2 separate regions of the Homo sapiens genome follow, and region 2 is linked to region 1. The links come from fine-mapping of genetic effects on gene expression. A gene starts in region 1. The other region holds a variant in brackets. All regions are shown on one strand. Distances are between the middles of the regions.

Evidence for each region. PIP is the estimated chance that this variant, and not a neighbour inherited with it, causes the effect.
Region 2: its variant is fine-mapped to the expression of P2RX4 in whole blood (TOPMed, PIP above 0.99).

The regions. Positions count from the first base shown.
Region 1 is chr12:121,201,448-121,217,747 of GRCh38, reverse strand. P2RX4 (purinergic receptor P2X 4) reads right to left here and starts at 7,619. Exons shown (of 12, transcript NM_002560.3): 1 at 7,450-7,619; 2 at 467-614. The coding sequence starts at 7,583. LOC105370032 (a long non-coding RNA gene) reads left to right here and starts at 7,676. Exons shown (of 4, transcript XR_001749352.3): 1 at 7,676-7,899; 2 at 14,148-14,250. RefSeq lists an enhancer at 6,794-6,843 and a silencer at 7,174-7,913.
Region 2 is chr12:121,227,017-121,243,316 of GRCh38, reverse strand. It overlaps P2RX4 (purinergic receptor P2X 4), which reads right to left. Exons shown (of 12, transcript NM_002560.3): 6 at 14,704-14,784; 7 at 14,451-14,592; 8 at 14,218-14,354; 9 at 10,810-10,903; 10 at 10,641-10,706; 11 at 10,225-10,320; 12 at 9,211-9,794. The coding sequence ends at 9,768. CAMKK2 (calcium/calmodulin dependent protein kinase kinase 2) reads left to right here. Exons shown (of 17, transcript NM_001270485.2): 17 at 2,448-5,625. The coding sequence ends at 2,618. Among named protein-coding and RNA genes, the nearest start is that of P2RX4, 25 kb to the right of the region's middle. RefSeq lists silencers at 2,472-2,551, 12,757-13,051 and enhancers at 8,948-9,575, 12,761-12,810, 15,949-15,998. The variant ACCG/G (reference allele first, on the strand shown) is at 9,877.

The DNA.
Region 1 (16,300 bases):
CACCACATTGCCCAGGCTGGTCTCAAACTCCTGGGCTCAAGGTATCTGCCCGCCCCAGCCTCCCAAAGTGCTGGGATTACACACGTGAGCTACTGTGCCCGGCCTAAAGTTTTTACACTGTCTGAAAAGATTTACCTCGTGTATTTGGGACAATAATGCAAACCCAAAATGTGGAAAGGTGATATTTCCACTTGAATTTCTATCAGGATTTAAGACATTTGTTTTCTCATCTTTCAGGGCTTTCAGCCTGCCATGCTTTCAAGCTGAGGAACCACAGCTGCCTGGATACACTCTGTTAGATCCTAAGCTGAAAAGAGATCTGGCTGCACCGTTTTCTTGGACTAAAACAATCATTCTGGGCATTGGTGATGTCAGGACTCAGGCCACGTCAATCATTAATCAAGTGTGCAAAGTCAGTAAAGAGCAAGGTGTCAGTGTTAGACAGAAGACACAGTGGGAGACACACCTGAGCTGGTATCACATAATCCGCCACATCCCAGATCCGGAATCCAAGTTTAGAAGTGTTGGTCACAGCCACGCCCTTGACCTTGGTCGTAACGGAGCTGACCACGGAGTCAGTTTCCTGGTAGCCCTTTTCCCACACAAACACCCACCTATAAAATAAAACAGGCCTCTTAAATTGCCATTAGGATTCAATGGATTTGAATTGATGGGGAAGCTTCTGCTGGCCAGTGGCTGGAAGTACGATGTTGACTAATTACATGACTTTCTACAAGCTACGTACCTTCTAGGGGACTCCATTTCCACTTCTGCCAAATGGGGATGGTAGCACCTAAACCACAGGAGGGTTTGCGGGAAATAAATGAGATGGTGCAGGTAAAGCACTCAGCACACTGATGGCACAGAGAAAACGCTCGATGAATACTGTCTTTATTACATTTGAGCATTTTCTCTTTTTTTTTTTTTGAGACGATGTTTCGCTCTTGTTGCCTAAGCTGGAGTGCAATGGTGTGATCTTGGCTCACTGCAACCTCCGCCTCCCGGGTTCAGGCAATTCTCCTGCCTCAGCTTCCCAAGTAGCTGGGATTACAGGCATGCGCCAACACGCCTGGCTAATTTTGTATTTTTAGTAGAGACGGGGTTTCACCATGTTGGCCAGGCTGGTCTCGAACTCCTGACCTCAGGTGATCCACCCACCTCGACCTCCCAAAGTGCTGGGATTACAGGCGTGAGCCACTGCACCTGGCCCTTTGAGCACTTTCAATGCCTGTGACCTATGGGAATCACCAAGAGATAATACAAATTATAACAGTTACCACTGGAGTGTTTATAGGCACCAGGCACTGATCTAAGCTCTTTATATGTATTAACTCATTTAATCCTGACCACTTTATGAGACAGGTATCATTATTATTATTTCCATTTTACAGAGGAGGAAATGGAAACACAGAGAGGTTAAGTCACTTGCCAAAGGTCACACAGCTAGTGAGTGGCAGAGTCAGGATTTGAACTCAAGCCAGAAGCATCTGAAGCCTCTTCTCTCACCCACTATGCTCTACTCTAAGCTTGTCTAACCCATAGCACACAGGCCGCATGCGGCCCAGGATGGCTTTGAATGAGGCCCAACACAAATTCGTAAACTTTCTTAAAACGTTATGAGATTTTTTTTTGTGTGATCAAAAAAAGTTTGTTTTTTAGCTCATCAGCTATTGTTAGTGTTAGCATATTTAATGTGTGGCCCAAGATAATTTCTCCTTCCAGTGTGGCCCACGAAAGCCAAAAGATTGGACAACCCTAGGCTACTCTTTCTAGAAAAGAGAATTCTACCCTTTAAGGAACTTTTAAGAGTAGTTTCTTACTTTTCCCCCAAGAATTCTGGTCACATATATGGTTCTCTCCTCTGAAGTGGGACTATGACTACCAGTTTGAACAATTAAAAATCCAAAGGGGCTGGGTACAGTGGCTCACGCCTGTAATCCCAGAACTTTGGGAGGTCAAGGGGGGAAGATCATTTGTGCCCAAGAGCTCGAGACAAGCCTGGGCAACATAGGGATCTCTACAAAAAATAAAAAATTAGCCGGGCATGGTCAGTTTTGATTATAGCAAGATGGACAAAAGCAAAGCATTTACTGCTTTAAAGATTCTCGTGACTGAGACAGTGAATACGTCATAAGGAATCCTACAGAGCTGTGCTGTCCAATAAAAATCCCGGCTATTTGGGAGGCTGAGGTGGGAGGATCACTTGAGCCTGGGAGACGGAGGCTGCAGTGAGCTGTGATGCCACCGCACTCCAGCCTGGGCGACAGGGCAAGGCTCTGTCTCAAAAAAAAAAAAAAAAAAAAAACCATCTACAGGCATTAGCTTATAGGGGTTAGGACAGACTGGAGGCAGAGGTCTTGGTTCATGGCTCAGCTCCACCATTCACGAGGCATAACTTTGGCCAAGGTGCTTAACCTCATTGTGCCTCAGTTTTTCCCATCTATAATCTGGGAATGATAGTAGATCTTCACAGGATTCTTGTGAGGGTAAAAGAATTAATGTAGGTCAAATGTTTACAACAATGTTTGTGAGTCATCGTTGGTCACAGAGCAAGTACTGACACCGTGGAAATTGGCCAGTACTACAAATCAGAACCCCTCCCCTTCGAACTGCTGTTAAACATCTACTAGAGACTATCAGTGTTGTTATTTATAGAATCAGGAAATGCTAGGCTTCTCCTTCTTCTAAGTCCTAGATGCTGAGACTTCAGAAATTCACTGGTTTTGTTGAGGTCAGGAGTCCAAGACCAGCCTGGCCAACATTGTGAAACCCCGACTCTACTAAAAATACACAAAATTAGCTGGGTGTGGTGGTGGGTGCCTGTAGTCCCACATACTCGGGAGGCTGAGGCAGGAGAATCACTTGAACCCGGGAGGTGGAGATTGCAGTGGGCTGAGATCATGCCACTGCACTCCAGCCTGGGCAAGAGTGAGACTCTGTCCCTCCACCAAAAAAAAGAAAAGAAATTAATGGTTTTGTTACTTATGAGTGTGTGTGATCGAGCAGTCTCCAAGTTCATTGCCCAGCCTAGAGATGGGCTTTCCCCCCATGGGCTTTTCCCCTGACAAGTCCAGGGCTTCTAGGAATTCAGCTGCAGTGTAAGCTTCCATTTAATTCCAGTCTGACACACAAAAGCTTGGGGCAGGAAGACTGATGTACTCATCAAGTACAGTGAGTTGCTTAATTTAGAGACACAGGGTTTCATGCCACTCATTATCATGTGATTATTTCCTCCTCATATGATTGTTAACAGAGTTAGATAGATGAGAATTGCGTGTTCGGTCTTTTTTTGAGGGAGGGTTGCTGTAGGAGGAGACCACAATTTCACTAAGATGAGTTGCATCAAAAAGTTAAGAGATGAGGTTAAAAAAAAAAAGAGCCTTAATGCAGGTCCTGAGTCAGTTTTGATTATAGCAAGACGGACAAAAGCAAAGCATTTACTGCTTTAAAGATTCTCATGACCGAGATAGTGAATGCGTCATAAGGAATCCTACAGAGCTGCGCTGTCCCATAAAAACATAACGCGAGCCACATATTTTTTTTTTTGAGACAGGCTCTCGCTCTGTCGCCCAGGCTGAAGTGCAGTGGCACAATCTTGGCTCACTGCAACCTCCGCCTCCCAGGCTACAGCAATCCTCCCACCTCAGCCTCCCAAGTAGCTGGGTCCACAGGTGTGCGCCACTATGCCAAGCTAATTTTTCGTATTTTTGGTAGAGATGGGGTTTCACTACGTTGCCCAGGCTGGTCTCAAAATTCCTAAGCTCAAGGGATCCACTTGCCTCAGCCTCCCAAAGTATTGGGATTACAGGCGTGAGCTACCACAGGGCAAGACCCTGTAATTTAAAAGTTTCTAGTAGCCATGTCAAAAAGTAAAAAGAAATAGAAAGGGCTGGGCACGGTGGCTCATGCCTGTAATCCCAGCACTTTGGGAGGCCGAGGCAGACAGATTGCTAGAGCTCAGGAGTTCGAGACCAGCCTGGGCAACATGGAAACCTCATGATTGTAGAGATGAGATTTCTCATCTGTACAAACAAACAAACAAAAACACAATAATTAGCCAGTCATGGTGGTGTGCACCTGTAGTCCCATAATTCCAGAGGCTGAGATGGTAGAATCACTTGAGCCTGGGAGGCAGAGGTTGCAGTGCATTGCACTCCAGTCTGGGTGACAAAGCAAGGCGCCGTTTAAAAAGAAAAAAAGAAAAAAGAGACAGGAAAAATTAATTGTAATGATATATTCTGTGTAACCCAATATATCCAAAATATTTTAACATGTCATCAATAAAAAATGTTTTCATGTGATAGTGGTACTCTTTGTTTTTTTGAGACAGTGTCTTGCTCTGTTGCCCAGGCTGGAGGGTGGTGTGATCACAGCTCTCTGTGGCCTCAACCTCCCAGGTTCAAGCAGTCCTTCTGCCTCAACCTCCCAAATAGGTAGGCCTATAGGCGTGTGCCACCATGCCAGGCTAATTTTTGTATTTTTTTGTAGAGGCAAGGTCTCGCTATGTTGCCCAGGTTTGTCTCAAACTCTTGAGCTCAAGCGATCTTCCCACCTCAGCCTCCCAAAGTACTGTGATTTCAGGCATGAGCCACTGTGCCCAGCCTCTTTTTCTGTACTATGTCTTTGAAATCCAGTGTGTATTTTAAGGTTATAGCACATCTCAGTGTAGAGTAGGAACGGTTAAGTGTTCAACAGGTGCAAGTTACTAGTGGCTACCATACAGTGCAACACCACTATGGATATTTTCCGCAGTTGTAATTTTACAGGTACCCTAAGGTAGATGTGCACTGATCCTCCCACTAGCAGCAAACGCCAAAAGCAAAAAGCTGCAGGGGAGCTCCTGCCCCCAAATGCTTCAGGTCCAACCAGGGATGTGAGTTCAGTTAACTGGCTAGCAGTGAGTCTCCAAAAAAAAAAAAAAAATATATATATATATATATATATATATATATATATTTGAGATGGAGTTTTGCTCTTGTTGCCCAGGCTGGAGTGCAGTGGCGCAATCTGGGCTCACTGCAACCTCCGCCTCCTGGATTCAAACGATTCTCCTGCCTCAGCCTCCCATGTAGCCGGGATTACAGGCATTAGCCACTAGGCCTGGCTAATTTTTTGTACTTTTAGTAGAGACGGGGTTTTACCATGTTGGCCAGGCTGGTCTCGAACTCCTGACCTCAGGTGATCCACCCGCCTCGGCCTCCCAAAGTGCTGAGATTATAGGCATGAGCCACCGTGTTCAGAAAAAAAAAAAAAAAAAATTCTTTTTTTTGCACTGCTCCATCAGTACAATTTACCATTTTAAACTTTATTTTTCTCTTAGAGATGGGGTCTCGCTATGTTGTCCAGGCTGGTCTTGTGTCCAGGCTGGTCTTGAGCTCCTGGCCTCAAGCAATCCTCCCACCTTGGCTTCCCAAAGCACTGGGACTACAGGTGTGAGCCAATGAGTCCAAATCTGGGTGTGGGCCAGGTGGTTCTGATGTTGAGTCTGCACCTGGAAAGCCATCCTCTTGAATACTGTCTGTATCTACTGCTGCTGCTGACAGATATTGGAAGCCAAACCTGCTTGGGCTTCCCTTGGGCAGTGTTAAGATTCCAAACCTCACCCCAAAGACGGGGGGATCTGTTACTTTTAAACAATTCCTCAGATGAGTCTTCCATGATCAGGTAAACTTGGGAAACACAGTTCATTGGTTCCGAAACGTTGCTGAACATGAGAATCACCTGGGCAGCCGATCATACTCTGCAGCAATTAAATCAGAAGGTCTGGGGATGCGTCTGGGCGCGGTGGCTCACGCCTGTAATCCCAGCACTCTGGGAGGCTGCGGCGGGTGGATCACCTGAGGCCAGGAGTTCGAGACCAGCCTGGCCAACATGGCGAAACCCTGTCCCTACTAAAAATACAAAAATTAGCCGGGCATGGTGGTGGGTGCCTGTAATCCCAGCTACTCAGGAGGCTGAGGCAGGAGAATCGCTTGAACCAGGGAGGTGGAGGTTGCAGCGAGCCAAGATTGCACCACTGCACTCCAGCCTGGGCGACAGAGGGAGACTCCATCAAAAAAATAAAAAAGGGTCTGGGGATGGGAGCCAAAGATTTCCAGATGGTTCCAATGTGCAGTTTGGAGACCACTGCACTAGGCAATACGTGTCAGCCCAGCAGCTGTAGACACCAGAACACCCCAGGTAAGCCTTTAAAGTGGCCCCAGGTGGCAAGGTAATTATCATCTTCTCTCTCGCGTTGTATTCAATTGTAACAGGTGCCAGCCCCGCGTGGGGGCTCACGCCTGTAATCCCAGCATTTTGGGAGGCTGAGGTGGGCGGATCACCTGAGGTCAGTTCAGGACCAGCCTGAAACCCCGTCTCTACTAAAAAATACAAAAATTGGCCGGGCGTGGTGGCGGGCACTTGTAATCCCAGCCACTCAGGAGACTGAGACAGGAGAATTGCTTGAACCCGGGAGGCAGAGGTTGCAGTGAGCCGAGATCGTGCCATTGCACTCCAGCCCGGGCGACAAGAGAGAAATTCCGTCTCAAAAAAATAAAAAAATTAAAAAAGTAACAGGTGCCTTCAAGTACAATGGCACATTCAGCGAGGCCTGAGGGCGGTAGGGCATCTCTAGCCTAAGGGGGCAGCATGGGGAATGACTGACTAGGCTAGGGCAGGTACCACAAAAAGCCCCACAAGCCCAGAAAACAAAGGAAGCAAACTTTAAACACTCGCTACAGTCTGACCTCGCTACTACCACATAGTGACACCGCATAGTGATCAAAAGAAATGACCAAAAGCCACCCACCCAGAAGGAACCAAGCGGAAATTCCAAGCTTTGGTTTTGTCAGCAAATCAGCAGGATGGGAAGTGGAGAGCGAAGATTGAGACGTTCAGGGCGAAGCCCCTACAGCCAAGGGGCACTATGGGGGGTCAGGCAGGAGAGGGTAACAGCCTAGCCAGGCTTTGCCTTTATTTATTTTGTAAACAGACGGGTCTCGGACTGTCTCCCAGGCTCGAGTTAAGTGGTGTGATCATAGCTCACTGCAGCCTCAGCCTCTTGGGCTCAAGCGATCCTCCCACCTCAGCCTCCTGAGTAGCTGGGACCCCAGGCGCGCGCCACCAGGCCCGGATGATTTTTAATTTTTTGCAGAGACGGGGTCCCACGATGTTGCCCAAATTGGTTTCGAACTCCTGGGCTCAGGCGATGGTCCCGCCTCGGGCTCCCAAAGTGCTCGGATTACAGGCTTGCGCCACCGCGCCTGGCCCAGGCTGTGGTTTTAAAACAGCAGCAAGCAGCCTCCCGCCCCCGGGGCCCCGGCGCGGCGGCTGGGGCCCAGGGAAGGTGTCACCGCCTCGGCTCGCCGCTCCCGGACTCGCCCAGGTGACCGAGGCCAGGATGAGCCGCCGCACGGCGCGGACGCGAGGGCAGCACCCGCCGCGCCCCCCGCGCGGCCCCACGCTCACCCGATGACGTAGGCCAGGATGAGCAGTTGCACGGCGCGGTTCATGAGCCCCACTTTGCGGCTGCGGATGAGCACGATGCGCGGCGTGTCGTACTCGAACAGGAAGGCCGCCAGCGCGGCGCAGCAGCCCGCCATGGCCGCGCCGCCCGCTCCCAGTCCCCTAGTCGGTCTGGGTCCCAGTCCCCGCTCGGAGCCCCGCCCAGTCCGCCTGGCCTGCTGGCGGCGCCGTCATCGCGGAGGAGGGCCCGGAAGGAGGCAGCACGGGCGGTCGGGGCCCGGGGCCCGGGGGAGGGCGCCACCTCCCCGTCGGGAACGATGACCCTCTAGGGGGCATGGAACTCGCGGGGGGGGAGTGGCCTCGCCCTTGAGGACGAAAGGCTCCTTCAAAAGGCGGGCGAGGGGCCGGGGGCGGTGGCTCACACCTGTCATCCCAGCACTTGCGGAGGCCGAGGTGAGAGGAATCTTGAGTTAGAGACCAGCCTGGACAACATAGCGAGACCTCGTCTCTATCAAAAATACAAAAAAAAAAAAAAAAAAAAAAAAAAAGCGGGCGTAGTGGCGCTCGCCTGTAGTCCCAGGGAGGCTGAGGTGAGAGGATCGCTTGAGCCCAGGAGGTAGAGGCTGCCGTGTGAGCTGTGATCGCGCCACTGCACTCCAGTCTGGGAGATGAAGCGAGACCCTGCCTCAATAAACCAGAAACCAAAAAACAACAAAAAAGGCGAGTTGGGGAGTAATGACCTTCTCAGGAGGGCCAGAGAGAACAAGAGACCCTTTCGGGGAAGATGGGGTCCGCGAAGAGAGAGTGACCTCCCATTTGGGACAGAGTTCAAGTGAGGGGTAACGAGCGACCTCCCTTAGGGGTACTGATAGGTGCCAGGGATTTCCGTAGAGGACCCCGGGGCTGTGCGGAGTAGCCATCGCTCACGAGTGCGGGCTCCTAAACTTGGGCAGCTGTGGTTGGGGGAGCTGGGGCCGCGCTGTCCTTAGCCTCTTGGGGAACAGCCTAAATATCAGGTGTCCTGTGAGCCCTGGGTGAGAGCCACACGCCCTGTAAAATACCCCTCCTGGATTTGAAGCCTGGTCGCATTCTCACTCCAAATACTTCCTTAGTTGCAGCCCAGGGGAGATAATTCTGTGGTCATCCTTTCCACTGAGAAAATGCTATCACAACTTTAGGAGAGAAAATAGTGAAAGGGGGGGAAACAGCCACCGTTCTACCCCATGAATACAATTTTCCGCATGTGTATTTGTTCATTCCCTTCAGATACGTTTTTTCTTTTTCTTTTTCTTTTTTTTTTTGAGACGGAGTTTCACTCTTGTCCAGTCTGGAGTGCAGTGGCGCGATCTCGGCTCACTGTAACCTCCGCCTCCCAGGTTCAAGCAATTCTCCTGCCTCAGCCTCTTGAGTAGCTGGGATTACAAGTGCCCGCCACCACGCCCAGCTAATTTTTGTATTTTTATTAGAGACAGGTTTTCACCATGTTGGCCAGGCTGATCTCCAGCTCCTGACCTCCCATGATCCACCCGCCTCGGGCTCCCAAAGTGTTGGGATTACAGGCGTGAGCCACTGCGCCTGGCCCAGATGTGTTTTCACAGGTGAATGTTATATTTAGTTTCCCAGAAAATATTCATAAGCACATCCTTTATGCCAAGTACTGTCCAGTGAACAGGACAAGCAAAATATCCTGCCTTCATGCAGCATAAATTCCAACAGGTAATTGGTATAAAGTTTTGGTTTGTAATCATAGTCAATGGCTGTGCTTTTCATTTTCTGATTCGCACTACGTGGTTTCTGTGTTACTGCAGACTCATCATAATGACAATTTTTAATCCATGGACCATTTCTTCCGGAAAATATACCACGATGTCTCTAACCGCTCTCATCTGCTTGCTTCTTAGTTTGTGGATCCTATGCATAATCTTTGATACAACATTTTTAGCTCATTTCCTGGATATGAGATTCCTAAGTAAGCCACACCAACTTGTTTTTCCAAATATAGAAAGGTGAATAATAAAATTTGCAGAAAACAGGCAGCATCTGCCTCTAAGAGATGGAATTCTTAAGTTAGAGGGAGGAACAGAGATGCCCATGCCAGCCTTGGTCCAAAATGGTCTCAGGAAAAGGTGGTGGTATTTTATTCATTCATTTGACAGAAATTTACTGAGTGCCTGTTGTGTGCTTGGCACTTTTCTTGATGCTAGGGCTATGGAGTGGACAGGTGAGGTATCTGCCCAAATGGAGTTTGGTGCAATTGGGAAGCCTCAAATTATCTGTAGAAGAAGAAAACTCCATTGCTAAATCCTCATTGGAAGGGGACTTAAAAATCATTTCCTTAAGAATCAAAACATGGCTGGGCACGGTGGCTCACACCTATAACTGCAGCACTTTGGGAGGCCGAGGCAGGCGGATGATCATGTGAGGTCAGGAGCTGGAGACCAGCCTGGCCAACATGGTGAAACCTCATCTCTACTGAAAATATAAAAAACTTAGCTGGGCCTTATGGCAGGTGCCTGTAATCCCAGCTACTCGGGAGGCTGAGGCAGGAAGAATTGCTTGAACCTGGGAGGCGGAGGTTGCAGTGAGCTGAAATTGTGCCACTGCACTCCAGCCTGGGTGACAGACTCCATCTCAAAACAAACAAACAAACCCCAAAAAACACCAGGCACGTGGCTTACACCTTTAATCCCAGCACTTTGGCAGGCCAAGGTGGGTGGATCACCTGACATTGGGAGTTCGAGACCAGCCTGACCAACAATGGAGAAACCCCGTCTCTACTAAAAATACAAAAATTAGCTGGGCGTGGTGGCGCATGCCTGTAATCTCAGCTACTCAGGAGGCTGAGGCAGGAGAATTGCTTGAACCGGGGAGGTGGAGGTTGCCATGAGCTGATCACGCCATTGCACTCCAGCCTGGGCGACAAGAGTGAAACTCCATCTCAGAAAAAATAAAAATAAAAAATAATGGCAGCAATCAAAACACATTTCCAGCCTTCATTCATACTTACCCTATAGTAATGAGTTAGTCCCAACCTCACAAATCTTGAATTTAGATGGTTTGCTTGTGTTTTGGAATGGGGTCAGTTAAGAAAAATGTAGAAATGCAAGTTTTTATAAATTACTAGTTGGTAACATCATTAGGCCTGACCAAAGAAGCTGATCCTAAAAAATGATTTGGAAAAGTTATTTTGTTTACACTGTTGCTCTTGGATTATCTCTTTTTAAAAAATAACTTTATTGACCAGACATGGTGGCCCATTCCTGTAATCCCAGCACTTTGAGAGACTAAGTTGGGAGGATTGCTAGAGCCCAGGAGTTTGAGACCAGCCTGGACAACATAGGGAGACCCCCATCTCTATAAATACTTTAAAAATTAGCCAGCCATGCTGGTGCATGCCTGTGGTCCCAGCTACTTGGGAGGCTGAGGCAGGAGGATCACTTGAGTTTAGGAGGTCAAGGTTGTAGTGAGCTGCAATTGTGCCACTGCACTCCAGCCTGGGTGACAGAGTGAGACCCTGTCTCAAAAATAAATAAGAAGGCGGGATGCGGTGGCTCACACCTGTAATCCCAGCACTTTGGGGGGCCGAGGTGGGTGGCTCACTTGAGCTCAGGAGTTCCAGACCAGCCTGGGCAACATGGTGAAACCCCATCTCTACAAAAAGTACAAAAATTAGCTGGGCATGGTAGCACGCACCTGTAGTTGTAGTCCCAGCTACATAAAATTTTTAAAAAAATAAATTGGCCAGGTGTGGCTCACACCTGTAATCCCAGCACTTTGAGAGGTTGAGGTAGGTGGATCACTTGAGGTCGGGAGTTTGAGACCAGCCTGACCAACATGGTGAAGCCCCATCTCTACTAAAAATACAAAAGTTAGCCGGGTGTGGTAGTGCATGCCTGTAATCCCAGCTACTTGGGAGGTTGAGGTAGGAGAATTGCTTGAGCCCAGCAGGCGGAGGCTGCAGTGAGCTGATATTGTGCCACTGCCCTCCAGCCTGGGTGACACAGTGAGACTCTGTCTTAAAAAAAATAATATAATAAAAATAATAAGGAAAGAGAGAAAATTAAAAATGGATCAAAGACATACATATAAGAGCTAAAATTATAAATCTCTCTGATGAAAACATAGGGGCAAATCTTTGTGACCTCGGATTAGACAGTGGTTTTTTAGATTTAGATTTTGTTGCCTAAAGCAAGGCAACAAAAGAAAAAAATAGATAAATTGGACTACTTTGTCAAAACTGAAAAGTTCGTGCTTCAAAGTTACCATCAAGAAAGGGAAAAACCCACAGAATGATAAAATATTCACATATCCTATATCTGTTAAGGATCTAGTATTTCAGATATCGTAAGAACTCTTAAAACTCACCAATAACATGACAACCCTATTTAAAAATGGGCAAACATATCTGAATAGACATTTCTCCAAAGAAGATATACACATGAGATCAATAAACACAAGAAGATGCTCGATATCATTATCGTTAGGGAAATACAAATCAAAGCCACAGTGAGATACCATTTCCTCCCCACTAGCATGGTTATAATTAAAAAGATGGACAATCAAAAAGCTGGCAAGGATGTGGAGAAACTGGAACCCTCACACATTACTCATGGGAATGTAAAATGGTCCAGCTGCTTTTTACTCGTGGGAATGTAAAATGGGCCAGCTGCTTTGGAAAACAGCAGTTCCTCAAAATGTTAAACATAGAAATTACCGTAGGACCAAGATATTCCTTTTCTAGGATTTCCCCAGAGAATTAAAAAGATATGTTCTGGGCGGGGCTCCGTGGTTCACGCCTGTCATCCCAGCACTTTGGGAGGCCGAGGCAGGTGGATCACTTGAGGCCAGGAGTTCGAAACCAGGCTGGGCAACATGGAGAAACCCCATCTCTACTCAAAATACAAAAATTAGCCAGGCATGGTGGTGCATGCCTGTAATCCCTGTAATCAGCTACTCAGGAGGCTGAGGCAAGAGAATCACTTGAACCTGGGAGGTTGCAGTGAGCCGAGATCGCACCATTGCACTCCAGCCTGGGTGACAGAGCGAGACTCCGTATCAAGAAAAAAAAAAAAGAAAAGAAAAGCTATGTTTGGCATCTGACCTTGTCTCTTTAACCTTCCCATGCCCACTTGGGCCTCTTCCAAGCACAGCTTCCTTTCCCATCCTAAGGCATTTCAAATAAACTTCCACCCCTCCTCTGAAAAAGAAAAATGTTCATGCAAAAACTTGTACATGAGTATTCATAGCAGCATTCATAATGGCCAAAAAGTGGAAACAATCTAAATGTCCATCAACTAATGAACACATAAACACAATGTGGTCCATCCATACAATGGAACATGATTCAGCCACAGGAAGGAAGCACTGACACGCGCCACACCACGGATGACCCTTGAAAACACCACGCTGAGTGAGAGGAGCCAGATGCCACAGGGCACTTATCGTATGATTCTGTGTATAGGAAATGTCTGGAATAGGCAAATCCATAGAAACTGAAAGTAGAGGCCGGGTGTGGTGGCTCACGCCTGTAATCCCAGCACTTTGGGAGGCTGAGGCGTGCATATCACCTGAGGTCAGGAGTTTGAGACCAGCCTGACCAACATAGAGAAACCCCATCTCTACTAAAAATACAAAATTAGCTGGGCATGGTGGTGCACGCCTGTAATCCCAGCTACTCAGGAGGCTGAGGCAGGAAAATCGCTTGAACCTGGGAGGCGGAGGTTGCGGTGAGCTGAGATCGCGCCATTGGACTCCAGCCTGGGCGACAAGGGCAAAACTCCGTCTCAAAACAAAACAAAACAAAACAAAACTGATAGTAGATTAGTGGTTGCCAGGGGCTGGGGGAAAGAAAGGATGGAAAGTGGCTGCTGGTGAGTACAAGGTTTCCATTTAGGGTGATGAAAATGTGCTGGAAAAGAAAGTGGTGATAGTTGCGGAACCTGTGAATATACTAAAAGCCGCTGAATTGTACATTTAAAAAGAGTAAATTTTATGGTATGTGAGTTATGTCTCAGTAATAATTCCAGTAAACAGGGAGTAAACAACCAAGGTCTCAAGAAAAGCAAAGTATATACCACGAATCCATGGGGCCAGACGTCATATTCCTTCTTCACAGGGGAGCATCTCAGGCCCTCACACCAAGCTTACCTTTTTTTTTTCCTTTTTGAGACAGGGTCTCCCTGTGTCACCTGGACTGGAATGCAGTGGCATGATCTCGGCTCAGTGCAACCTCCGCCTCCTGGGTTCGAGCAATCCTCCCACCTCAGCCTCCCAAGTAGCTAAGACTACATGCACACGCCACCATGCCCAGCTAATTTTTTGTATTTTTGGTAGAGATGGGGTTTCACCAGGTTGCCCAGGCTGGTCTTGAACTCCTGAGTTCAAGCGATCCATCTGCCTCGGCCTCCCAAAGCGTGGGGTTACAGTCGTGAGCCACCGCGCCCGGCCTCTTTTTAGTTCAGATGCGATTGGAGCAGTTTCGATTTTCTGGTTCCTTTGTTGCTGGTGAAGCCAGTTCATCAGTACCTGCTTTCTCTAGGCTGTCATTTCTCGCAGAGGTGGTGCAGCAGCTGTTTTTATACTATGTGACCTTATCTTCCTGGCCACAGCTGACTGGACCACAGGTGGGAAACTGACCCAGCCGGGCCAGTCTCTCCTCTGGCTTTGGCATTGGGATAGTGACAACTCTTTCTTCTCTGCAGGTGACTGGAACTGATTTGACATAACCATCGTATGCATGGAGAAGCTGAGAACAGTAATCTGCAGAAGCAAAAGTATGAAACAGCCGGGCAAAGATGCACAGAGGTGAGAGAGACGAAGGGAACGGCCTCTGGTTTCTGTTGAGCTTCCACTTCTTGGTTCTGCCTCCTCCCCCCGTTCACCTTTACCTTTGAGATACCCCCATAATCTCATAATAAGTGTTCATTTTTTACTTAACCTAGTAGCCTTCTGAAACTTGGAATTGAAAAGACTATGTCTATAGCCCTAGGATCTAACAGATAAAAAATGTATTATGTCACCAGTAACGTAGGTGGTAAAACAAACATTTGTTTGAATGCAGCAAATTAGAAGGAGGTGGGACGCGTTGCCCCAGGCCACCAATACTAAGAGCAGCGATACACAAATAGCCCATAAAAAAGAAATGTTTCTATAAAAAGCAGAGCCAAGAACTCCGAAAAGCTCATCAGTCTGGGGCCATTTAGTTTAGAGACCTCAGTGTGCCTTAGGGTGTCATTTGGTTATGGTTATGTAAGACTGACATTTGTTACAATGGCCTTGAGCCGCAAAAGGCCAGTCAGAAGAGACAGTGTCATTTGTTTAGGAGAATCTACAATGAAAAAATGTTTAAATTAAATGTTTAGGCATTTAAAGATGTAAGACTCGCTTATCTGGCACATAGACATTGTGAAATACGTCATTGTATAACAGAATGACAGATACGTGTGGCACACAGTATAATTATATATACTTCCAGAAACAGAACGTCTAAATAAAGAACAAGTTGATAGCAGAAGTGAGGAATAAATTATTTTATAATTTTGCTGTTGCTTTCCCTGGGTAGTGCTTGAGACTGAATCTATTGTGGAACAACAACAACAAAAAAAACAAAAAGCAAAAAAACAGAACAGAAAAACCCTGACTCTTATCTAACAGGCCATATGTTGATCACAGATAATCCTCTCAACCCCATCAGACCCAACGTCCTTTTCGTTTTTTTGACACAGGGTCTCTCTCTGTTGCCCAGGCTGGTGTGCAGTGGCGGGATGTCAGCTCACTGCAACCTCCGCCTCCCAGGTTCAAGCAATTCTCCTGCCTCAGCCTCCCAAGTAGTAGCTGGGATTACAGGCACCCACCACCATGCCCTGCTAATTTTTGTATTTTTAGTAAAGACAGGGTTTCACCCTGTTGATCAGGCTGGTCTCAAACTCCTGACCTCAGATGATCCACCCACCTTGGCCTCCCAAATTGCTGGGATTACAGGCGTGAGCCACCATGCCGGCCACTTGTATTATGGTTTTAAAGTGTAAGACTTCTTTATATATTCTAGATACAAATTCCATATCAGATATATGATCTATAGATGTTTTCTCCCATTCAGTGGGTGGGAGGAATTACAGGTTGTTGAAATGGAGGAGATGGGGAAGGATGATATTCCTGCAGATGAGCTGGACATATTCTAATACCTGGATCTTGACATCTTAGCACATTTGACATTCGGTCTTTAGGCTGTAAAAGACCTCAGAGATCACACCCTTTGATAGGCAGCGTAGAATAAAAGGTGGATGGGGAATAACCTGTGACTGCAAGAGGCAGTGTGGGGGAATTGTCTGATACTGCTGAAAACAAGAGGCAGCCCCAAATTCATCAATCCTGTATGTGATTTTCACAACAAATTTTTGTTTGTTTCTTTTTAAATTTCACAATGAAATTTCATGTCACTGTGCCACGAAGAAAAAATTGTAATATATAGAATGGAAATAATGTAAAATCTATATATTTTATTTCGTTTTACTTGGTTGAAAATGTGTAACATTTATGATTTTTTTTTTAGTTTTTAACTTTTTTTATTTTTATTTTTATTTTTTGAGACGGAATTTCGCTCTTGTTGCCCAGGCTGGAGTGCAATGGTGCGATCTTGGCTCACCGCAACCTCTGCCTCCCAGGTTCAGGCAATCCTCCTGCCTCAGCCTCCCAAGTAGCTGGGATTACAGGCATGCACCACCACGCTTGGCTAATTTTGTATTTTTAGTAGAGATGGGGTTTCTCCATGTTGGTCAGGCTGGTCTCGAACTCCCGACCTCAGGTGATCTGCCCACCTGGGCCTCCCAAAGTGCTAGGATTACAGGCGTGAGCC
Region 2 (16,300 bases), 26 kb before region 1:
GCTCACGCCTGTAATCCCAGCACTTTGGGAGGCCGAGGCAGGTGGATCATGAGGTCAGGAGTTTGAGACCAGCCTGGCCAATATGGTGAAACCCCGTCTCTACTAAAAATACAAATATTAGCCGGGCATGGTGGCGCACACTTGTAGTCCCAGCTACTCGGGAGGTGAGGCAGGAGAATCACTTGAACCCAGGAGGTGGAGGTTGCGGTGAGCTGAGATCACGTCATTGCACTCCAGCCTGGGCAACAAGAGCAAAAATCTGTCTCAAAAAAAAAGGCTGGGCGCGGTGGCTCACGCCTGTAATCCCAGCGCTTTGGGAGGCCAAGGCAGGCGAATGACGAGGTCAGGAGATCGAGACCATCCTGGCTAACACAGTGAAACCCCGTCTCTACTAAAAATACAAAAAATTAGCCGGGCGCGGTGGCGGGCGCCTGTAGTCCCAGCTACTCGGGAGGCTGAGGCAGGAGAATGGCGTGAACCCGGGAGGCGGAGCTTGCAGTGAGCCGAGATTGCGCCACAGCACTCCAGCCTGGGCGACAGAGCGAGACTCCGTCTCAAAAAAAAAAGAAAAGAAAAAGAAATGGATTGGCCACCCATCCCGTGGGAGTCAGGGCTTATATGGTAATCTAGGAGGAACACCTGTTTGGGAATTATTTATGCTTTTGAGAGAAACCTTGCCCTCCAGCATAGAGCAGGGAAAATGGCAGTCCTTCAGAACCGGTCTTCAGCAGTCTCAGAAGGCAGACACAGTCCCCAGCTTGTGCCCAGACAGACGCCTGGGCAGCCCCGCCTTGGGTGTGAGCCTCACGGATGATGGAGTGGAAACCCAGCGGGCTGGCCTTTCCTCGGCCTTCCTCCTCTCAATCTCCATTTTAGGGTTTGCCAAACCGGGGCTGCCTCCTGTCTCTGAGCAAGTCTGCTGTTGGTTTCTTTCCTATTTTCTTTCTTTCTTTCTTTCTTTCTTTTTTTTTTTTGAGACAGGGTCTTGCACTGTTGCCCAGGTTGGAGTGTTGGAGTGTAGTGGTGTGATCTCGGCTCACTGCAACCTCTGCCTCCTAGGCTCAAGCGATTCTCCTGCCTCAGCTTCCTGAGTAGCTGGGTTTACAGACATGTGCCACCATGCCCAGCTAATTTTTGTATTTTTTTAGTAGAGATGGGGGTTTCACCATGTTGGCCAGGCTGGTCTTGAACTCCTGACCTCGGGTGATCTGCCTGCCTCAGCCTCCCAAAGTACTGGGATTACAGGCATGAGCCACTGTGCCCGGCCTTCGTTTCAATGAGATCAAAATTGCAAGACACCAGCAGATGGAGACTGGCCCCAAAGGGCTATGCTGCCCCTTCCTTTCTTCACCTGGGATCCCCTGCCCTCAGCCCCCAGCAGGTAGGATGCCTTGGTCATGGGAGCTCACAGAGCTGATTCAGGCACTGGGGGTCTTGGACTGGGGGCCTGCCTGCCGTCTGCAGTAAGACCCAACCCCTACCAACAGGCAACTGCGAGGGCAGAGACTGAGGGCCTGACCTAACGTCTAGTTACAGCGCCCCCCTCCCCAGGGACCTTACCCACATTCTCCATCAGAAACATAGCAAGCCAGACATCACGCTTCCTTTCCCTTGTGTAAGGACAGTCTCCCTCCTGGACAGGAGACACGGATTGTTGTGGGGGAAGGACAGACAGTAACCCATGTGGCATGCCCAGTGACCTCCCTAAGAACAGGGGAGCTGTGTGATGGTGGTGAGGGGATAGGCTCGGGGATTCCCCTCGCACCTGTCACGCCATCCACGCTGTCACACCGGCGGCTCCAGCCTGGGCTCTTCAGGGAAACAAGGGCTCTCCTCCTCCCACTTCCAAGAGGGAAGGGGCCTCCTCTTCTGTCTGAGGTGCTCCTCCCTCAGGGCTGGCTGCAGGAGGGCTGAGGCGGGAGGATCCCTGGAGCAGTTGTCATCTGCCCTTTCTTGAGGGCCAGCTGTGTGCCAGGCCAGGCAGGGGAGGCTCTGATCACCCCCACACACAAGGAACTCAACATCTGGTGACTGAGGACAAGCGTCACAGTCCCTTCCCTGTAAGGGCTCATAGCCTAAGTGGGGGATCGAAGTACCTAAAAACCTGGTATGACAGGCGCCGTGGGGTGGGGGGTGCCTTCTACTTGGGATTTGTGCAGTGAATTTTGGTGTTACATAGTTTTGGAACTGTTGTACGGGTCCTTGCTATTTTTGGCAAATGATGCTGGTCTTTCATTTACAGAGGGGCTGCGTGCAAAGTCTCCTTTGAAAAATTTATGTGAGCAAGGAAAAGGGGAGAGGATCTCAAAGACTGGGTTACGTAGATCACGTTCCAGGGGGTGCGCGACGGCCCACTTGGGCAGGGGGCCCAGATGTGGGAGCAGCTGGCTCAGGGCCTCGCTGGCATTTCTCAGAGTCTTAATGTTGGTTTTCTGTTCGGTGAGCAGGAAGCAAGGCAGCGAAGACAACCTCCAGGGCACCGACCCGCCCCCCGTGGGGGAGGAGGAAGTGCTCTTGTGAGAGGCAGTCCCTGCGTGGAAAGTTGCTGGGCCCCCGCCCCCGGCTCCCCCGCACGCATGCATCCACTGCGGCCGGAGGAGGCCATGGAGCCCGAGTAGCTGCCTGGATCGCTCGACCTCGCATGCGCGCCGCGTCGCCTCTGGGGGGCTGCTGCACCGCGTTTCCATAGCAGCATGTCCTACGGAAACCCAGCACGTGTGTAGAGCCTCGATCGTCATCTCTGGTTATTTGTTTTTTCCTTTGTTGTTTTAAAGGGGACAAAAAAAAAAAAAGGACTTGACTCCATGACGTCGACCGTGGCCGCTGGCTGGCTGGACAGGCGGGTGTGAGGAGTTGCAGACCCAAACCCACGTGCATTTTGGGACAATTGCTTTTTAAAACGTTTTTATGCCAAAAATCCTTCATTGTGATTTTCAGAACCACGTCAGATATACCAAGTGACTGTGTGTGGGGTTTGACAACTGTGGAAAGGCGAGCAGAAAACTCCGGCGGTCTGAGGCCATGGAGGTGGTTGCTGCATTTGAGAGGGAGTAGGGGGCTAGATGTGGCTCCTAGTGCAAACCGGAAACCATGGCACCTTCCAGAGCCGTGGTCTCAAGGAGTCAGAGCAGGGCTGGCCCTCAGTAGCTGCAGGGAGCTTTGATGCAACTTATTTGTAAGAAGGATTTTTAAATTTTTTATGGGTAGAATTGTAGTCAGGAAAACAGAAAGGGCTTGAAATTTAATAAGTGCTGCTGGAAGGGGATTTTCCAAGCCTGGAAGGGTATTCAGCAGCTGTGGTGGGGAAACATTTCTCCTGAAAGACTGAACGTGTTTCTTCATGACAGCTGCTCAAAGCAGGTTTCTGAGATAGCTGACCGAGCTCTGGTAAATCTCTTTGTCAAATTACGAAAACTTCAGGGTGAAATCCTATGCTTCCATGTACATTACATGGCTTAAGATTAAACAAAAACATTTTTCAAGTCTCTAACTAGAGTGAACTCTAGAGCACAGTAGTTCAGAAACTATTTAGAGCTTCCAGGATATATTTCACAGCTTCAGGCATGTGATCAGTTAGAGCCGATGAAACCTATGCCCGCCTGTATATATATTAGCAGCTTAGCTAGTTCATAACCTGTATATTCTAAAGACTGCTAAGGTTTTGTTTTCATTTTAAATCCTAGCTGATTGTTGTGGTCAATGAAATACCCAGTTTCTGGAGGGCCAGGTGGGAAATGCTTTCACTGGACCAACACACAAATGATCATCCTGAGGATCTGAGCTTCCCTAGACTCCACACAATAACCTTGGGGCACCCTTTTAGAGAAGACTGTTGAAACCCACAGCACTCGTTGGGGTATGAGGAAACCAGGGCTTGGCACAGGAAGTTCCCCTTTGTAGCTAAAAGTCCAGAAAGAAAGGGTTCATCTTTTTGACTTCCAACTGATATTGGGAAGTTTGGTTGAGGTTCAAGTGTGACTCCTTCCAGAGCCACAGGTAGGGGAGTGTGAAGTTGAGGGGGAGGAAAGCTGGAAGGACTCTGCCTTGGGAGATTCCCAGCTCTGCTTTCCAGCGCTTGGTGGAATCTGGGCTGGGGAAAGACGGCACCGGGAAACTCTGCTTCCCCATTGTTTCCATCTGATCAGCTGTGGTGTGAGGACTTCTCAGACAAAGGCAAGGCCTCGTGCCCCTGCCCAGCCCATTCATGGAGCCCTGGGCCTTCTTGGCTTCCATAGATCCTAAGCTCTTGACTGTAGTTTAGCCAGACTTGTTTTGCTATCTTATAAGCAGTTCAGAATTAGGGAATGCTGGTTTTGAAGAGCAAAGGACAGGTAGTCTAGAGAGGGTCGTCTGGCCTGCTTGCTGGGTCTTTGTAACCCAGCACTTCCTCTTGCCCTCCTGGCTTTATGTTTATGGGGAGAGGACTCAATAGCTCCACCCCTTCTGGCACCAGATGGGGCTTGGTTAGTTTGCAATAAGCACCTTGCAGAGGTTAAAGCCAGCGGGTCCCTAGTCTTAGGCCCAGCCTGCTTGTGTGGGCTCTGGCCTGGCCTGGTGGCTGGCCCAGGGGGCAGCAGTGCTTAGAGCTTCTGCAGGGCTTCTCTTGTTTACACAGCTGCATCAGACAATGCCATTTCTCCCCACCACGGAACCTTCCATCTAAGATTTCTTCCAGGGAATGCCAGCAATCAGGCAGCACCCAGCTGTGGGGGCAGTGGGGTGGGGGAGACCCACATTGATGACTTTTTTTTTTTCTTTTAATGAAGAAACACCAAAGAAAGCTGTGGAAAGGACCTGCCCCACATGAAAAGGATAAGCCAAGATGGCTGTAAACACAGAGCATTTGAGCTGCCACTCTTGGAGCACATTGATTTTTCAAAAGCCAGCTCTGTCAGGAAAGGAGGTGCTGTTATGAGCAGCTCTTCCAGTGGGCAAAGAGGACGCCCATAATTTCTTCCATTGCTAGCTCATCTGTGGGACCAATTTGGTGTAAGCAACCTGTGGCCTGCACTTGTGGCCTCGAAGGAAGCACAAACCCTCCATCCACTTCCCATTTCCTCTGCCCTTTTCCACCTCCCCCTTCCATCCCACCAGCTGCCAGTGGCTCCCAGAAAGCCTTATTGAGCCCCTTGTTGACACTTGGGGCTGCGGAGGCCTCTCCCTACTGGTCTGGCCTTTCCTGAGAGGCAGGTCTTCCGTCCTCAGAGCCTTTCTGGAACAAGGAGAATGCCTGTGCAGGTGGACACACAGGCCTGGCCTGTCGCTCTCACTTGTCTTCCAGCGGGGAGCTTCACGTTGCCGAGTGGAAGAACCATGACCTCCACTTGCTTCCAAGGTGCTAGGGAAGTTTCAGGGTACGCTGGTTCCCCTCTCCAGCTGGAGGCCGAGTTTCTGGGGACTGCAGATTTTTCTACTCTGTGATCGATTCAATGCCCGATGCTTCTGTTTCATTCCCGACCCTTTCTACTATGCATTTTCCTTTTATCAGGTGTATAAAGTTAAATACTGTGTATTTATCACTAAAAAGTACATGAACTTAAGAGACAACTAAGCCTTTCGTGTTTTTCCACAGGTGTTTAAGCTTCTCTGTACAGTTGAAATAAACAGACAGCAAAATGGTGCCAAGCCTGGGCCTCTTGGGGAGGTTTGTATTGGTGATTGTTTATTTAGGCCGCCTGCCCTGATGTCTGTATTCCTTCCTCAGGCTGACAGCGAGGTCAGATGCCCAAGTCAAGGCTAATGTATTCAGCAAATCTCTAATTTAGAGCATGTCCTAGGACCTTGCTACTCAGTGTGGCTCCCAGACCAGTAGCGCCAGTGTCACCTGTGAGTGGGTTAGAAACGCAGGTGCCGGCCGGGCACGGTGGCTCACACCTGCAATCCCAGCACTTTGGGAGGCCAAGGTGGGAGGATTGCTTGAGCCTAGGAGTTTGAGACCAGCCTGGACAACATGGCAAGACCCCATCTCTTAAAAAAAAAAAAAAAAATTAAAAAATTAATTGAGTGTGGTGGTGCATGCCTATGGTCCCACAGCTACTCAGGAGGCTGAGGTGGGGGGATTACGTGAACCCTGGAGGTCAAGGCTGCAGTGAGCTGTGATCATGCCACTGCACACCAGCCTGGGCAACAGGGCGAGACCCTGTTTCAAAAATTAAAAGAAAAAAATAAATGCAGATACCCAGGCTTGGCTTAAACCTGCTCCCCAGGTGACTCGTCCGTGTGCTGAAGTTTGAGCAGCACTGCTTTCGCAGGCAGGTAATTGCAAGATTCTGGTGGAGGCCAGACAGGTGGGCAGCCCCCGAGCAGTCTCAGTCACACTGAACTATGGCCTGGTATGCCACATGACACTTTACCCCACGAGGTAGGGATTAACCTCGTTTTATGGATCATCGTCTGTGAGGTGAGGCTCCAGAAAGTTAAGTCAGTTGTCCAAGGGTTAGAATTTGCCAGCAAAACCCTTCTGGTTTTCTTTTTTGAGACAGGGTCTCGTTCTGTCACCCAGCCTGGAGTGCAGTGGCAGTCTCGGCTCACTGCAATCTCCACCTCTCAGGCTTAAGTGATCCATCCACTTTGGGTTCCAAAGTAGCTGGGACCACAGGGGCCCACCACCACACCAGCCCCCACACCCAGATAATTCTTAAATTTTTTATAGAGACAGAATCTCACTATATTACCCAGGCCTGGTCTCAAACTCCTGGACTCAAGCAGTCCTCCCACCTCAGCCTCCCGAGTTGCTGGGACTACAGATGTGCACCACCATGCCTGGCTAATTTTTAAATTATTTGTAGGGATGAGGTCTCACTACCTGTTGCCCAGGCTGGTCTCAAACTCTTGGACCAAGTAATCCTCCTGCCTCAGCCTCCCAAAGTGCTGGGATGACAGGCGCGCATCACCACACCCAGCCTCCTGCTGGTGTTCATGGCATCTAGAAACACACCCGCCCCTCACCCCAACACTGGCTTGCTTTCACATTTGTTTTAGAAAAGAGGCTAAACAGCATCTCCCCCACTTCGGAAGACAGCCAGTGACCATCACTCCTTGACGAGCAAGATCATAAACACACCCATTGCCCTTAAGTCTGTTTTGTGCTGCTGTTACAGGGACCTAAGACTGGGTAATTTATAAAGAACAATAATTGATTTCTCACATTTCTGGAGGCCAGGAAGTTCAAGATCAAGGTGCTGGCAGGTTTGGTATCTGGTGAGGGCTGCTCTCTGCTTCCAAGAGGGTGCCTTGGTGCCGCATCCTTTGGAGGGAGGAACACTTGTCCTCGCGTGGCAGACAGTGGCAAGGCAGACGGGGGATGAGCTCCCTCTCTAGCCCTCGTATAGGGCACCAACCCCATTCATGAGGGCAGCGCAATCCTGACTCAGTCACCTCCCCAAGGCTTCACCTCCCAATAAGGTTGCCTTGGGGATGAAGTTTCCAAAATGTGAATTTTGGTAGACACATTCAGCCCATATCACCATTCCTAAACATTCCAGCTTCATTTGACCCATGTGCCTAAGCAAGCACTTTTTATTTTTTCAGACAGGGTCTCACTTTGGTGCCCAGGCTGGAGTACAGTGGCACCATCATAGCTCACTGCAGCCTCAACCTCCTGGGCTCAAGTGATCCTCCGGCCTCAGCCACCCAAGTAGCTGGGACTACAGATATATACCGCCACACCCGGCTAATTTAATTTTTTGTAGAGATAGGGTCTCACCATGTTGACTGGGCTGGTCTTGAATGCCTACGCTTAAGTGATCCACCTTGGCCTCCCAAAGTCCTGGGATTACAGGCAACAAGCATTTTTTTTTAAAAGGCAGCATGAACCAGAGCTTCAATAAAGGGAGTTGGTAAACTTTTTTTTTTTTTTCCAAAAGCAAGAAAAGCCCAGGTTGGCCATTTATCCAGCAGAAGCAGAGTATTTGTAAAATAATGGTTCCTCTCAGTACTTGGAAGTGAATTCATGGCAGAGGCGAAGGGCAAACTGCTTCCTCTAGGGGGATTCTGAATACCTGATGCAGAATTCAGCTGGTGTGTGGCTGGGTGCAGTGGCTCACGCCTGTAATCCCAGCACTTTGGGAGGCTGAGGCGGTGGATCATGAGGTCAGGAGTTCCAGACCAGCCTGGCCAACATGGTGAACCTCTGTCTCTACTAAAAATACAAAAATTAGCTGGGTGTGGTGGCAGATGCCTGTAATCCCAGCTACTTGGGAGGCTGAGGCAGGAGAATTGCTTGAACCCAGGAGGCAGAGGTTGCAGTGAGCCGAGATCATGCCACTGCACTCCAGCCTGGGCAATAGGGCAAGACTCTGTCTCAAAAACAAAAAAACACAAACATTTAGTTGGTGTGAAGCTGCAGCTGGAAATAGCTTCATGAACATTTCGAACCTGTGCGGAGCTAGGTATGCGTGCTGCTGCTTTTGGTTGGAGACTTTTGGGAAGCAAACAGGGAAGGGAGAGGAAGCCACTTCCATGTTACCAAAAATTGTGTTACCCACAGCATAGAATTGTAATTTTATGTCAAAATGGAGGCACAGGTAAGATGTCACTAGAGAAAAAGTGTCCTGTGAACTGTGCAGGAAGACAAGCTAATGACAAATTATTAGGCTTTAAAAAGTAGGCAGCTGGGTGCAGTGGCTCATGCTTGTAATCCCAGCACTATGGGAGGCTGAGGTAGGAGGATCGCTTAAGCCCAGGAGGTGGAGACTGCAGTGAGCAGTGATTGCGCCACTGCACTCCAGCCTGGGTAATAAAAAAAATAAATAGGCCAGGTGTGGTGGCGCACACCTGTAATCCAATCACTTTGAGAGGCTAAGGCAGATGGATCATTTGAGGTCAGGAGTTCGAGACCAGCCTGGCTGGCCAATGTGGTGAAACCCTGTCTCTACTAAAAATACAAAAATTAGCCGGGCATGGTGGCATGCACCTGTAATCCCAGCTACTCGGGAGGCTGAGGCAGGAGAATCGCTTGAACCCGGGAGGCAGAGGTTGCAATGAGCCGAGATTGCACCACTGCGCTCCAGCCTGGGCGACAGAGTGAGACTCTGCCTCAAAAATAAAATAAATAAATAAAGAAGTAGGGGAAAATGTGCATAAGTGCCAGAAACAGACCATCCCATGGACCTTTTCTGAGCACAGTGAGCCGGAATAGTGGATTTACTGGTTGTCGTAAAAGGGTAGGAAGGAAAGTTCTAGCACATGCTATGAGACAACAGACAGGGATTAAGAAAATCACGCTTTAATGTCTGGTCCTCGATCACCTTAGCACAGCGCTTCTCTGAGGAGAAATGCCAGCTCTGCCGCATGGCTGCAGGGAATGGTCGGGGGGAAGCCTGCAGCCCAGGCCTGCTACAAGTCTAGTGACTGCAGCCAGGCGGCCTCCCCTGCCGCATAAAGTGCTTGAACAGAGCCGCCGTGCCTCAGAGGACTGGGCCTGTCCTGGAGAGAGCTGGAGACAGGAGGCTTCTGAGCAAAGCCAGCTCCAGCCCTGAAAGCCACAGCAGTGCCACTGCGTCGGGCCAGCGCTCCCCCGACAACCCCAGGTTGCGGGAAAAGCAGAGTTGACCCAGCCAAGAACAGACTGCTGACCTCCTGGGCCGAGTGGGCAAACAGATCCTGCACACAACACACAGGAGCTGCTGGGGAACCCTGAGTGCTTGTGGAGTGGAGACTCAATCAGATTCCAGAAATTTCTCTGGGGTGATGTGGTGGCCATTTCTCCCTCCTCCTCCTCTCTGTTCTTTGATGGGGCTGTGGAGAGCCCAGGTGTGGGGTAGGCCTCACTGGTCCAGCTCACTAGCAAGACCCTGCAAAGAAGGACACAAGCAGATCAAGGTGCCCCTGGGACCCCTTGTGGCAGGCGGGAGGGAGGTGCGCTCCTGGGACTTC[ACCG/G]CCAGGGGTTCTCAAGTTGGTCCCAGGCCTGGAACCCAACCCTTCCTGTTCCGCAAGGTGCACTGAAGTAGTGTGTGCCCACAGGCATTCTCAGAGCATGCATTATCATCACCAACCTGAGATGTCGCTCATTGAAACGAGGCTGGGTTTAAAGAGTCAATCTAGTACAGGGGCCTAGGGATGGAGCAGCTGCTGAGAGTGGCAGGACTGCCCGGGTTAACGGGGACACCACGCCACACTGGTGCCAGCCTCTGCAGAAGGGCCTCCCCAGACAGGCCCACGCCCAGGGCTCCCACACCCAAGAGATGAGAGGCCTGTGCCTGCTGGGGGCCAGGAGGGGCCTACCTGCTCGTAATCTTCCACATATTTATATTTCTTCTCCCGATAGTAGAGTCTTTTCTTCATGCAGTAGAGGACTATGATGTCACACAGCACGGTCGCCTGAGTTTAGCATAGGGTGAGAGTGAGCCAGGATGCTTGCAACCCATCAACCCATCTTATTCTTTGCGTGCCCCTTCCTGAGAAGCCTGGAATCTTTACCGGAATGGAAAGGCACTCCCATCTCTTGGGAGAAGGCTGGGACCTGAGGGGGGTGGTCTTGGAGAAGGGAAGGTGGGAGGAGGGCTGGGGGCCAAGGGAAAGAAGGTAGGAGGGTCAAGTTTAGAAACACATCTGAGGTCTAGGGCCTAGGGCCAGGACCAGGACCCCAGCCCAGGGTCTCACCTCACCGTGAGGGTGAAGGCAGGGCCTAAACCACTCACCATGCCTAGCAGTGCCAGGCCAGAGCCGATGTTGATCATAGTGGGGATGATGTCAAATTTCCCTGCCTGCCAAGACACCGAAAAAGAAAAAAAGTGTTTCTGCAGGGGCAGGGAGAGGCCCCTTGTCCCTGCAGGGAGTGACGGAGGGGAGCCAGTGGCGGCGAGCTACCTTCCCAAACACAATGATGTCGAAGCGGATGCCATAGGCCTTGATGAGCGTGCGCTGCTCGTTGCCAGCCAGGTCTCTGTAGTACTTGGCAAACCTGAGGGGAAGGAGGATGGATCAGGGGGAGATGGCTGGGGCAGGACCTTGGGCCCTGTGAGAGAACGTTAGAGTGGAGCTGGCACAGGTGAATGGTCCACTCTGCCGGCTGAATGGACGCTGGAGCGGCTCGGGGCCTCTCCTGGCTGAGGCGGGCTGTGCAAGCAGGAGGATGCGGGGCCCACGAGGTACAGGGGCACAGGGAGACCTCCTCCTCCAGCACCAGTGTCCTCTCCTGAACCTGAACAGTTTGCTCTCAACATCCCACCTGGTACATCCTGCCTGCCTCCCTCAAGGGACCCTGACCTCCAACATCTAACAGTAAGAATGTGACCAGCCAGCATTGCAGGAGGGGACTAAGCCAGCCCCAACACAGCATCAGTGCAGGGACTTTTTTTTTTTTTTTTTTTGAGATGGAGTCTCCCTCTGTTGCCAGGCTGGAGTGTAGGGGCACCAATCTTGGCTCACTGCAACCTCCACCTCCCCAGTTCAAGCAATTCTTCTGCCTCAGCCTCCCGAGTAGCTGGGACTACAGGCGCACACCACCATGCCCAGCTAATTTTTGGATTTTTTAGTAGAGACGGGGTTTCACCAAGTTGGCCATGATGGTCTCAATCTCTTGACCTAGGGCTTTTTAAATTTATTTATTTTTTCAAAGAAACATTGATTCTGTGCACACAGTCTTCAACAACAACAACAACAACAAAAAGAACCACTCGTTCGTCACACAGATAAAGAGATGAACAAAACGTCGTCTGTCAACACAGCAGAATATGATTTGGCCATAAAAAGAGACGAGGTACTGACACAGGCTACGACATGGATGAAGCTTGAAAACATCAGGCTAAGGGGAAGGAGCCAGACGCAAAAGGCCACATATTGATTATATGAAATGCTCAGAAGAGGCACATCTGCAGAGACAGAAAGTAGACCACTGTTGCCAGGGGCCGGGGGATGACAGAAGGGTGCAGGGTTTCTTTTTGAGATGACGGAAATGTTCTAAAATCGACTGTGGTGAAGCCTGCACTTATCTGTGAATATAGTGAAAACTATGAATTCTGCACTTCAAATGTGTGAACGGTATGGCATGTGAATTGCATCTCAGTAAGACCATTTAAAAATATATGGCTGGGTGCGGTGGCTCACACCTGTAATTCCGGCACTTTGGGAGGCCGAGGCAGGTGGATCACTTGAGGTGAGGAGCTCGAGACCACCCTGGCCAATGTGGAGAAACCCCGTCTCTAATAAAAATACAAAAAATTAGCTGGGTGTGGTGGCGGGCGCCTGTAATCCCAGCTACTCAGGCGGCTGAGGCAGGAGAATGTCTTGAACCCGGGAGGCAAAGGCTGCAGTGAGCTGAAATCGCACCACTGCACTCCAACCTGGGTGACAGAGCAAGTCACTCCCTTAAAAAAGAAGAAAAAAAAAAAAATATATATATATAATGGCTATATATATAATGGCTATATATATATATACACATATATACATATACATATATGAGAGAGAGAGAGAGCGAGCACGCGAGAGAGCGCACACGCATGAGCAGGGGATGGATGGTTGGTGAAGAACCGTCAAGACATACCATCTGCTGCCCCATGTTCTCCAGGGATCCATCAGGAGCCTCGGCCCGCACCCTAGCTCCATGCTCTATCTGGCCCACAACTTCCACGCCATGGGCCAGGCCTGGGAGACACAGGCAGGGCCTGGTGCTGCCCGAGGTTGGGGGATAGGCGTCCTGAGTTCTTTCCGTTTTAGGGCTCTGACCTAAGCTTGAGGTTTCCACAAGAAGTGTGTGACAGTAGAGATGGAATAACACAAATCTAACTGCTAGAAAAGAAAAATTCAAATATCTGCTTTACTCAGTGAGCCAGAAGGTTCAAAAGGACAGCAGATCCCACAATTACAGAGGTCTTAGGATCCCGTATGGATCGGATTCCACACGTCACCACTAGGGGGAGGCAAGTGCAGCCCAAAGCACCGCTGACCGCGCCCAGGGATGGTCCTTGCAGGGCCTCTTTTTTTTCCCCCTGAGACGGAGACTTGCTTTGTCGCCCAGGCTGGAGTGCAGCAGTGCGATCTCGGCTCACTGCAACCTCTGCCTCCCTGGCTCAAGCGATTCTCCTGCCTCAGCCTCCCAAGTTGCTGGGATTACAGGCATGCGCCACCATGCCCAGCTAATTTTTGTATTTTTTTTAGTAGAGATGGGGTTTCGCCATGCTGGCCTCAGGTGATCTGCCCGCCTTGGCCTCCCAAAGTGCTAGGATTACAGGTGTGAGTCACTGCGCCCGGCCTGGAGCGCTTCCTTTTTAAGGACTGTGAAAAATGCAACAAAGGGTACGTGGAAATTTACCTGGCTATAGATTCTGATCATGAGATCATCAGCTGTAGTGGGTTGAACAGTGTGTCCCCAAAAATTCACATCTACCTGAAGCTTGGGAGTGTGACCTTATTTGGAAATGGGATATTGGCAGACGTAATTTGTTAAGATGAGGTCATACTAGAGTAGGGTGGGCCCTAAATTCAGTGACTGATATCCTTACAAGAAGAAAAGACACAGAGACACATACAAGGCAGAAGGCCTCATGACAGGAGAGGCAGAGACTGGAGTGATGCATCCACAAGCCAAGGAACACCGTGGGCTACCAGAAGCCAGGAGAGACAAGTAAGGACTCTCTCCAGAGCCTTCAGAGCGAGCACAGCCCTGCTGATGCCTGGATTTTAGGTTGTGGCCTCTAGAACTGTGAGAACTGTGAGAGAATCAAGTCCTGTAGTTGCAAGCCACTGTTTGTGGGACTCGCTTACATCTGCCCCAGGACACCGAGATGCCAGCATTTGCAGCAGGGAACCCAGCAAGGCCTTTCAGGGGCCTCAGACCTGTGTCCCCTGCACTCTGGAGATTCTGGCACAGGTTCAACCTTTGAGAAACCAATTCCTGGGCCAGGCCCCAGAGGCCTTTGGACTGGAGGATCACAAGATCATCCGCTCCTTGAGGCAGTGAATGGAGGTCATGGCTGAGGCAGGTGCTGGAAAGCTTAAGCCCCCAGCTTCTCCTGGCTGCTCTAAGAACCATCTCAACATGTTTCTTGCGGCAGGAAAGGGCAAGGAGGGGTCTCGGGGGCCGGGATGGCCCCGGAGCAGGACACCACTAAGGGCATTTTCCCAGCATGGCCTTCCCGCCGCCTTGGACGGGGGACCGGCAGCCTGCCCTTGGGGTGCTGCCTGAGTGCTGGTCTTCAGTGGGCGGCCCACTGGCACGTACGCAGCCACCAGCACCCCCTACAACATGAGCGAGGGGCCCAAGCTCACGCCCACCTGAAATTGTAGCCAGGAGATACGTTGTGCTCAACGTCCCGTGTATCGAGGCGGCGGAAGGAGTACCTGGGCAAGCAGAGGGAGGCGGCTCTGTCCAGGTTGCAGTCCCAGTTGACCTGGATGCCCATGATGCCTCCCTGGGGATGAGCAGCAGAGACACGGCAAGGCTTTCCTCAGCACCTGGCACGAGACGCCTCCAGGGCTGGGTCAGGAGAGCCAGGGCCCGCACCCACCTCCACGGCCATGTCCTGGAAACTGTGTCCTGCGTTCTCCACTATTTTGCCAAGACGGAATATGGGGCAGAAGGGATCTGTTTTAGCATCATAAATGCACGACTTGAGGTAAGTAGTGGTGATGTTGGGAAGGATATTCCTCCTAAAGTCGAGAGGAAGCAGAAAATCAGAGCGACGAAAACCTCAGAGAAGAGAGAAGAGCCAGAAGTTTCTCCAAGACCCTGGTGAACTCACACACCTGGCCACCACTTACTTGCTGAAATTAAATTTGGGATACCAGATGTTGTTCTTAACCAAAAGAGTGAAGTTTTCTGCAGCCTTTAAAAAAGCAGGTCTGAAAAACAATGATAACATTACTGTTAATAAAATACATACAAATACTCACATAACCATGTTATATATATATATATACACACATATATATATGTATTGTGTGTGTGTGTCTGTGTGTGTGTGTGTGTATATATATATATATATATATTTTTTTTTTTTTTTTTTTGAGATGGAGTCACTCTGTCACCTCGAGTGCAGGCTTGAGTGCAATGGCGCGATCTCAGCTCACTGCCACCTCAGCCTCCCGTGTAGCTGGGATTACACAGGTGTGAGCCACTATGCCTGGTTAACTTTTTTTGTATTTTTAGTAGAGACAGGGTTCCACCATGTTGGTCAGGCTGGTCTCCAACTCCTGGCCTCAAGTGATCCGCCTGCTTCAGCCTCCCAAAGTGCTGGGATTACAGGCATAAGCCATCACGCCCAGCCTATATATATTTTTGAGACAGGGTCTTGCTCTGTTGCCCAGGCTGGAGTACAGTTGCATGAACACAGCTTCTTGTAGCCTCGACCTCCCAGGCTCAGGGGGTTCTCCCACCTCAGCCTCTCAAGTAGCTGGAACTATAGGCATGCATCACCATGCCTGGCTAATGAAATTTTTTTTTTTTTTTTTTGTAGACATGAAGTCTTCCTACATTGCCCAGGCTGGTCTTGAACTCCTGACCTCAAGCAATCTTCCTACCTCCGCCTCCCTGTGCTGGACTACAGGAGTGGGCCACCATGTTCAGCCCCTATGTAATATTTTTAAAAACATATACACACATCTTACAATGTCATTTTGTCAAGAAGATGAAACACGTCTAGCATTTTCTACACCCTTCTGCATGCACACTCTTCTCTTCCAAGAGAAGACACTGAGCCGAGCCTTCCAGGTTCTTCCCCTCAAGGAAGGGCAGGCCCTCTCCCCCAAGGCGGTGAAAACTGAATTGCTAACCAGGGAGGGGATTTGTGGCCTCACTGGAAATCAGTAGGCCTGGCTTTGGGGCCGCAGGCGTTCTCCAGGGAGAGAATGAAGGCTGGGCAGATCCGGTTTTACAGGTCAAAGCAAAAGTAAATTTGCCTACAGGCTGGATCCTGACCTGTCTGAAAAGTGCACAAAGCACCCGCCAGCAGGTGCGCCGGCCTCTTCTCAGAAGTGCCACGTCAGCTCCTGGCTGACAATACAAGTTGAATCTGTCCCCAAGGGGACTCCATTTCTTTGGTGAATTTCTCCTGGAGAATCTGGCACTGTATGGCTAACCCTTCTGTGGGGGATGTTCCCCTGATCCAGGTGGGATCTTTGGAATGACAACATCAACAGTCTTCCCAGCCCTGAGACAGGAGCAAGGTCAGTGACAGGGCTGCACTCGGAGGAGAGCTGAGCCTGTCACCACTGCTGTCAGAGAAAGGCTGGGACCAAGGGGCTTCTCTCAGGTTTTTTTTTTTTTTGAGATGGAGTCTTGCTCCTGTTGCTCAGGCTGGAGTGCAATGCCGCGATCTCGGCTCACTGCAACCTCTGGGTTCAAGTGATTCTCCTGCCT